2 linked regions of the Homo sapiens genome follow. The protein of the gene in region 1 purifies or fractionates together with the protein of each later gene. This does not show direct contact. Each region holds a gene or a part of one and is shown in the gene's direction. Other genes may lie near its edges.

Region 1 (5,274 bases):
ATATGTTTTCAGAAAATCAAGTCAAATAAGTGGCAGTAGTTGATTTTCCTTGGCTTACTCATCTTAAAATGAGAAAATGGGTCTTTTAAGTACTATATATTATAACCAATATAATTTAGAACACAGACTAAACTAATGAAATGTATATATGTTGTGGCCTGGGAAAAGATAAACTATGATATAAGCTTATATTAGTATTTACTAAGAGAGAAAGTAGAACACAAATTCTTACACAGGCCTACACAGTTACTACTTTGTACTAGAAATTTGGTTTTTAGCTTCCTAGGAGTCAAAGAAAAGAGGGAAGGAAGCTAGGTGATATGGTTTTCTCTCTCCATGACAGAAGAAAAATATACGAATTTTTTCCAGGAAGCATAATTTTTAATTAGCATTTAGCTCTAAAAGAAATGTCTCATGTAGGAAAGCATTGGTGAGTGTTTTCAAAAGTGATTCATACAACACATACAACCATAAATCTTATACAACTTTTTGTTACTACTTTTAATCAAAAGGTTTAATGGAACACTTTTGCAGTGTTGTAATATTATAGGATGCATGTCTGAATTATTCTAATAATAAACAGAAATGGATGACCTGCTTGCCTTTCAAACAGTCCTTCATAAATATCACTTCTCTGAAGTAGATGTTTCATAAAGTTTTGATAGTTTGAACTCTAGCAAGAGTCTGAGGTACACATAACATTTGTCTGTGTCTTCTGTTTAATAAGATGATATATAAAATGTTTATTGTTTAGTGTTTTACTTATGTAAATAATTCTGTACTTTAAAAGTTTTATTTGTAATCTTTTTTTTAATCCTTTATACAGGTTTGATAACCCAGCTGCTGTAAGCCCAACTCCTACAAGGCAACTAACTTTTAACTACCTCCTTCCTGTGAATGCTTGGTTGTTATTAAATCCTTCAGAGCTCTGCTGTGATTGGACCATGGGAACAATACCACTTATAGAGTCATTACTAGATATTCGAAATCTGGCCACATTTACTTTCTTTTGTTTTCTGGGGATGTTGGGAGTATTCAGTATCAGATACTCTGGTGATTCCTCCAAGACTGTTTTAATGGTAAGAAACTTTTCTTAACTTCCAAATGATGTTAACATTCAGTTGAATAAGTAAGAAACTACCTTTAATTCAGCAAAAGCATCTTTTTAGAAGCACTCCTTTCTTTGTTCAACGGCATCCCAATTTATAAACGTATTTGAGTTTATCCCAAAATTCTCAGTTAATTTGCAGGCATAATTTGACATATGTTCAGCACATAAAATATTTGTTACCTTTATCCAACTAGATTATACACTTTTTGAAGAAATTGATTATATTGTATATTATTTGTTTTCTTGGCACAGAGAAGAACATCATATAAGATATACAACTAGAAATATAGAGCTTTTCAGTTCTCATGAGCAAGGTGGTTTTTATTACTCCCTTAGATAGCTTTCACTATGTTCGGAGAACTCTGATTATTTGAACAGTTTTTTTTTTTTTTTTTTGGTGGTGGTTTTTCTGTACTGTTTTTCTTCTTATTTTCTTACCCTGTGTCACTTCATACTCATAAGAGTTATGTTTTCTCTCCCTTTTAATTATTGAAGACAGGCTGGGTGCGTTGGTTCTTGCCTGTAATCCCAGCACTTTGAGAGGCCAAGGCAGGTGGATCATTTGAGGCCAGGAGTTTGAGACCAGCCTGGTCAACCTGGTGAAACTCTCGTCTCTACTAAAAATACAAAAATTAGCTGGGTAGCTGGGTGTGGTAGTGGGTGCCTGTAATCCCAGCCACTCAGGAGGCGGAGGCACAAGAATCACTTGAACCAGGGAGGTGGAATTTGCAGTGAGCTGAGATTGCGCCACTGCACTCTAGTCTGGGCGACAGAGCAATACTCTTTCTCAAAAAAACAAAAATAAAAATAAAAGTTTATTGAAGACAATAGTACATTTTCTCAGGCATTTATTATATGTCAGAAAGTATGTTTAATGAATTGCAGATACATAATTTTTTGCTGTAGCTGCTAGATTGATTTATTCATTCAATAAAAACTTAGACTTTACCCTTTGTACAGTGCAGCATTTTAGGTGCTGAGGTTATGATAGTAAATACACAGTTCACGTTTCCAGAGAACTTACACAGTTCACGTTTCCAGAGAACTTACATTCTAGAGAAATTTGGATGTCTGAGATACAGAGTAGATTTAAAGATTGTGTTGTCTATTATCCTTGAACATGTTGAGTTTGCATTACTGTTGAAACATCCTGTTGGACATTTTGAACAGCACTTTATGTCTGGAGTTCATAGAAGATAGTTAAGTTACACATAGAAATCTTATCCATTAACATAGAGGTGGTAATTGAAACCAGGATGTAGATAAGGTGAAATGTAGATGAGGTTATAGAGCAGCCTTTCTCAACTGGGGTTTTGTCAATTCTGTCAAAGATGGTAGCTGTTAACATTCTAGATGCACAGAAGTTCACTCATACTCATAATGGAAGCCTTAGGGTATTTGGTCTTAATTCTCCCCAGAAAACAGTTGAGTGGGCTAAATACAGTGAAAAGAGAAGATACCTACTACTAGGTCTTGAGAAACTCCTATATTTAGATGTTGAAGAGAAGGATCCTGAATAGAAGACATATCGAATGAAGAGAAAAGTAGGAAAGTGTATTACAGACCAAATGGTTAACACTAACAGATGCTCTTGAGGGGGAAAGTGAGATCTAGAATCTGTTGGATTGGACTTCTTTTAGTCTGTAGGTACTTAAATGAAATTTGTTTATGTGCAGTGAGTGATTTGATGAGGAAGTGAAGAGAGCTAGTATAGACCTGTAGGAATAATTTAACTTTGACTGTTTCAAAGGATGGGATAAACTTGATTAATTCCTCCCTAAGGGAAGACTATGCTGGTCAGGCAATGGTTTCAAGTATAACAAACTGCTTATCTTATGTAGGGCCTGGGGAAGCATTGAGATCTGGCATTGGTAGACCTTCAGAGGTAGGAGGGAGCAATGTCAGGGAGAGACTGTTGATTGGTTGGCATATAGAAGCATTTTTATTGGCGTACTCAGCTACTCAGCTGACTTTTTTGAATGCGGATATCCCTGATGGGTTGGCTTGCAGGAACATATTTATTAAGCTGAAATGTTGATTGGTTAAGTGGTAGACTTAAGTTGATTAGTTAAGTGGGCTACTTGATACTATGGCAACAAAATCTTTTCCTAAGATCATGAGAACTTGTTTTGTACCTGAGGTATGTAACGAATAGGGAAGGTAGCTTAAAAAATGTATTGTTAAAGATGTTTAAGGCTGGAGAGACAAGAGCATGTTTAAATATAGATAGGAAGAATACAGTTGATTAGAAAGTGGTTAATAAATTAGAGAAGGGATAATTGTTAGTGAAGTTTATGAGGAGCAGGAGATAGGGAGCACAGGTTTGGCCTGAGATAGAAGAGACACCCCTTATGTTACAAGAAGAAATGAATGTGGATGTTGGTAGGTTTAGTAGCAGGAAATTAAAGAAATTCTTGTTTTATGGCTTCAGCTTTCATTGTAAATTAGGAAATGTAGTTGCCTGCTAAAACTGACATGGGTCAAAAATTTGAGAAAAGTAGTGAAGATTCAAAGCAGTCAAGAAGAGTGGAAGGAACTTTCCAGAGAAACCTAGAAATCCCAAACAGTCTTAAGGATAAATTTGAACTTGGTGCTCATGCTTTTATGACAGTATTAATCTGTTCAGCTTTGGGACTTTCTCTAGCAGTGCGTTGCCACTCTGGTAAATACAGACAAAAGAAATAAACGGTAGAATACATCTAAAGCTGGAGTTTTCCTAAAAGAAAGGTTAAAAAAAAAGGAGAGGTAGGGGAATTAAGGTTTCAGCAAATAAAATAATGGTGTATGTAATGTAAGCTGAATTTTAAATGTATATAAAAATGGAACAGCTGTGGCCTTAAGCATAACTCTATTTTCAGTATAGTCCTAATAAAGGTGCTATTTTTTTTATGGTGATGTTTTCTGAAGATCTCTGGAAGGGATAAGTAGAACAAAGGAGCACCTACCAGATACCATGTTAAGCACTTATTAGATAAGATGTCATATATATGTCAACAGCATAATGTAAGTTGTTATTAATCCCCATTTTATTTGTAAAGAACTAACTGGGTTCAATCGCTCATGCCTGTAATCCCAGTGCCTTGGGAGGCAGAAATGGGAAGATCACTGGAGGCCAGGAGTTTGGGACAAACCTGGGCAAGACAGTGAGATCCCACCTCTAAAAAAAATTTTTAAATTAGCCAGGCATGGTAGTGCATACCTGTAGTCCTAGGTGTTTGGGAGGCTGAGGCAGGAGGATTGCTTGAGCCCAAGAGTTCAAGAATGCAGTAGACTATGATCATGCCACTATACTCTATCCTGGATGACAGACAAGACCCTGTCAGAAAAAAAAAAAAAGGAAGAAGAAAAAAAGAAAGAAAGACTCTGGAGGTGACTGAGTGGTTTGCCGTATGTAGGAAATGAGAAGTAAAGCAGATTTGTCTCGAACTCTTTGCTCTTTCTACTAATATCCTAACATTTAAGGACAGTTTATGCTACTGGAAGAAGGAAATTACAAGAGAGTGATAGTTAACTAGGTTGGCATACATTATTAGAGAGCATATTAGGACCTGTGAATAAGTTAATCATTAGAGACATTTCTTATCCCAGAACCTATAGATTTTTCCTGAGAGATTTTTTTTGTTTTGTATAGTTTATGCATCAGTCTACAATACACTTTTGAGTGAATTTAACACTTAATTCCCTCAAGTGAAATTGCCTTGGGGCGGCCATGAATTAATAGGTATAATTTTTTTTTCAATGAACTACATACATATTCAGGAACTTTTCTTTATCTGTTTCACATTTTTTGCTGATTATTTTTGTCAAGCATCTCTGGGAAATGGAAAGTGAATTCTATGCACTCTTAGTTATTCTTACCTTTTTGATTTAAAAAAACTGAAGTGTCAGACCTATAAATTGGTATGATGGTGACCAGTTTGATGGTAGTGATTTTCCTCAGATTCAGTGTTGCCTTATTACAAATCATTAATGTGTGAACATTTGTGGAGAGTATTCTTTTCAATGTATACACCTCTATATTTCACAAATTAAGTCAAATAGAAAAAAAGGACATTCTTTCACCTTAGCCCATTAGAAGAGTCTCAAACTTGTGAAGCTAAAGGTTTAACTTGTTTATTCAATTAAGTACTGTAAAACAAATCGGGGTAACAAAATATGGAAGC
Region 2 (3,952 bases), on another chromosome or scaffold:
CAGTCCACCCCTGTAGAAGCAGGAACGCAACCTTTGAGTGGTACAGTGGCACAGCATGGCTTTCACTGAGGACAGATGGTAGAAGGCTGCTGAGGCTGGGGTAGAACTCAGTATGGTACTCTAGGTCCTTCTCAGGTGACCGTTTGCCTGTCCTCTGCCTTGCCTCCCCTTGTCCTCCACTGTCTGGTTGGCCCATCTTTTTAGGGAGGGTGCTAGTCCTCTGGCGGCTCCCCTTGCCATTCTGCAGGTCTGGCAGAGTTGCAGGTTGCTAACTGTACGGCCCCTGGCCTGCATCCTTTTGGTGCTTCCCTGCTTTGCTGTTTTCTGGTTCACTTGTCCCTCACCACTCAGCACACCTGCATGCCTGACCCACCTCCTGCCAGTCACACCTGGGCCACACGCTTAGACTATGGGTGTTTCCAAGGTGGAGAATAATAGGGGGGACCAGAACGCCCCAGAACTCCAAGGAGTCCGAGAGATCATCTGGCCCTGCTCAGAAATTATGTGTGTGTATGTATGTTTATGTGTGTGTGTGTGTGTATGCATGTGTATCCATGTATGTGTGTGTTGTGTGTATGAGTGTGTATGTGTGTGTTGTGTGTATGTGTGTGAACTAAAAGAAGCTAAAACACACATGCACACACATACATACACATACACACTCATACACAAACACACACATTCATACACACAAACACACATACACACACTGACACACGCATACACACACACATACACACATACACCCCCCACATAAACACATACACATACACAAATATACATACACACATATGCATACATACATACACGTAGATACACATACACATACAAACACCCACCCACATACATATGCACACATACACACATACATATACACACATACACACACACCTACACACATACACATACACACACATACACAAATACAAGTACATACACAAACACATATACACAGACACATACACATGCAAACACATGTACACACATATATACACATACATACACAGATACATATATACATATACATAATACACATACACACATGCATACACACATATACATAGACATACACAGATACATATATACATATACATACATACTCATAAATACACACATATACATACAGACATACACCCCAGCAACAACCACGACCAGCATTAGAATCTCGTCTCTTGAATAGTGGGGAGCAGGTAGCATAAAGATGGTGTGTGTTCAGAGTTCCTGGCTCAGACTCCCTGGCTCAGTGAGTGTGGTCAAGCCTCGCCTCTCTGAGTATTGGTTTCCTCATCTATAAAATGGGGATGCTCATGATTGGCTGCTGTGAGCCAGTGTCTGTGAACACACTGGCAGGGACTCAGAGGTTGGTGCCCTCCCCTCCACATGTGTCAGTGGCAGGCACATGAGGAAAGTTTCTTTCATTGAAATGGTGCTTGCTGCTTCCTAATATGTACAAGTGCTGGGGATATGGGTGAACAAAACCAACAGAAGAGTTGGGCATTTAGCAAAGAATTGAAGAATGAATGACAATTGAGATGATGCTGTGAGAGAACATCTGTATACGAGGGGAACCTGACCTCCTCTGGGGGTCAGAAAAGGCTTCCTTCATTCTTTCTACTCAAAGATTAGTATCACCCCAAGACTTGCAGGTGGTGATGACAGAAGGGGAAGAGCTGGCAGGGTGGTGAGTTTAAGACACACTCCCTGATATTCGGCCCATTTTGGGTTTACATCCGTTTTCTATACACTGTGTTCCCTGACTGTCTTCAGGAATGGTGGATTCGTCAATGATGCCTATCATGGGCTACCTCGTAGACCTGCGGCACGTGTCCGTCTATGGGAGTGTGTACGCCATTGCGGATGTGGCATTTTGTATGGGGTATGCTATAGGTAAGGACATTGGCTTTTCATAAGAACCTTTTACCTCAATACGTAATGGATAACGTCTACTAAAATTGTTTAAATCTTTGCATCTTTCAGTCTACAAGACATTTGGAAGAGCTTTATCTAATTCTCTGTTTCCTGAAAGGTCCTTCTGCTGGTGGTGCTATTGCAAAGGCAATTGGATTTCCATGGCTCATGACAATTATTGGGATAATTGATATTCTTTTTGCCCCTCTCTGCTTTTTTCTTCGAAGTCCACCTGCCAAAGAAGAAAAAATGGTAAGAAAAATTTAGGATGCAGTGAGCATTTCTTGATAATTTTAGCATGGCCTTCCTGATAGCTTCCTCATGGTTTCATTCTAAAGCCTTCAAACATAAATGGTGAGAATTCCTTTTTAGTTTGTACCACATAGAGCAGTTACTTCTTTTATTTTTTTATTACTGTGAAAGTTATTTCTTTCAAGCTTATGTTTATAAACTGGGAGAATGAAATTATTTTTGTACATAGATTAGCATCAGTGTTGCTCTTTTGTCGACCAAGTATAAACCTGGAATCATTCAATTTGATTTTCTATGGTTCTTGAAAATCTTGGACACAATCTTTCTGCCTCCTGTACTTATGCCCAAGGTTAGCCATTTGTGGTGCTGTTGCTTTTCTCATAACCCTTACAGCATTCAGTAATAGTTGCTGTCTTGTCTTTACTGTATGTAGGATTTTAGAGATGATTTTACGATTTTTATGGAAAAATCATTGTATATGGACTTTGGGGTATATGTGAACACACAGAACGATTTAATTCATAACTTTATGACCAAAATTATAGCCATAGGCAAGATACAGAGTATAAAGCATCCCTCTTTTGAAAAAGTCCAAATTAATTGATTCAAAATTTGAATTTTGAAATGCATGAGTCATTTTAACCTTTCTAAGGTATTTACCTTACCCAGCAAGGAGACGCTCAGTGTTTCTGATCATCTTTCTTATCTGGTGTTGCCAGTTTTTAAAACAGCAAATGCTGATAGGTACTTGTCCAGGTGAAAGGAGAGTGTCTTGGATTAAGGATGAATGAGGTGAACAAGAGGACATGCATTTTTGTGTTTGAATAGATGTGAGGTTTGTTTGTAATGTTCTCTTGGAAGTACATCAGAAGGTCTTTCTGACAGTGGAACTGAATGCATCTTAATGCTTTGGCATTTCCTGAACTGCCCTTTGATGCTTTTCCCCAAAAGGAGATTTAAAGACAAACCTTAAAATAAGGTTATGTGCAGCCTGTGTTTGTCTTGGGTGTTTTTTACATTCATTAATTCATTCCACATATTTTAAAATATATCAAGCACTGGGCACTGGCCTTGTGCCCTTTATTTTAAATAGGATTTAACTAGATACTTTTGAGTAATGCATGGCCCGTCTGACTCATGGAAAAGGTATGGAAGGTGCTGTGGAAATAACTCAGACAGAAGCCATCCCCTTGTCCTTCCCTCCGCTTGCTTAGATGCTTCCCCAGCTCTGAAAACCACATCACCTTCTCAGACCTCTCTTAGGAGACATCTGCTTTCCAGCTTGGGTGTGTAAATTTCAGATGCATCTTTGCTTGGCTGACCCTAGCATAATACCTTGCCGAAATGGAGTCAGAAAATTCTCAGCACAAATGCAAACTGCCATTCTGTTGCCATGATAACAGTTTAAGGCTGAATGGAGGTTACTCAATGTTTTTGACCAAAAAAAGTATATATGTGTGTATATGTGTTTGTGTGTGTCTGTGTGTGTGTGTATAAAATCACCTACAAATGCTCCTGTAGCCCAGGAAACTGTTTGAAGACTCCTGGGAGATAGTTAGGGCTAGCATGGGCCTGGGAGCCACACTGGCCCCACCATGTAGAGGCTTATGAGTCTTGGTTTCCTCCTCTGTTGCATGGAGAAATGATAACGTCTACCTCATAGGATTGTTGTGAGGATTAAATGAAAGAATCCCAACAGAGTGACTGGCCCTGTGGCTCAAAAAGTGTGTTCCTATTTCCAATATCACCCCACTCTTTCCTGCTTATCTAACTCTCTGGCTTCCCCCGTCAG

What was found. The genes of interacting proteins can lie anywhere in the genome.
Region 2: the proteins of TMTC3 (region 1) and SLC18A2 purify together in Homo sapiens (co-immunoprecipitation; one large-scale study listed by IntAct). This does not show direct contact.

Annotation. Positions count from the first base shown.
Region 1 is NC_000012.12:88,165,504-88,170,777, forward strand, and holds part of TMTC3 (protein O-mannosyl-transferase TMTC3), read left to right. Parts: intron 1-826; coding exon 827-1,079; intron 1,080-5,274. UniProt on the Homo sapiens protein: Transfers mannosyl residues to the hydroxyl group of serine or threonine residues.
Region 2 is NC_000010.11:117,268,304-117,272,255, forward strand, and holds part of SLC18A2 (synaptic vesicular amine transporter), read left to right. Parts: intron 1-1,767; coding exon 1,768-1,887; intron 1,888-2,026; coding exon 2,027-2,160; intron 2,161-3,952. UniProt on the Homo sapiens protein: Electrogenic antiporter that exchanges one cationic monoamine with two intravesicular protons across the membrane of secretory and synaptic vesicles.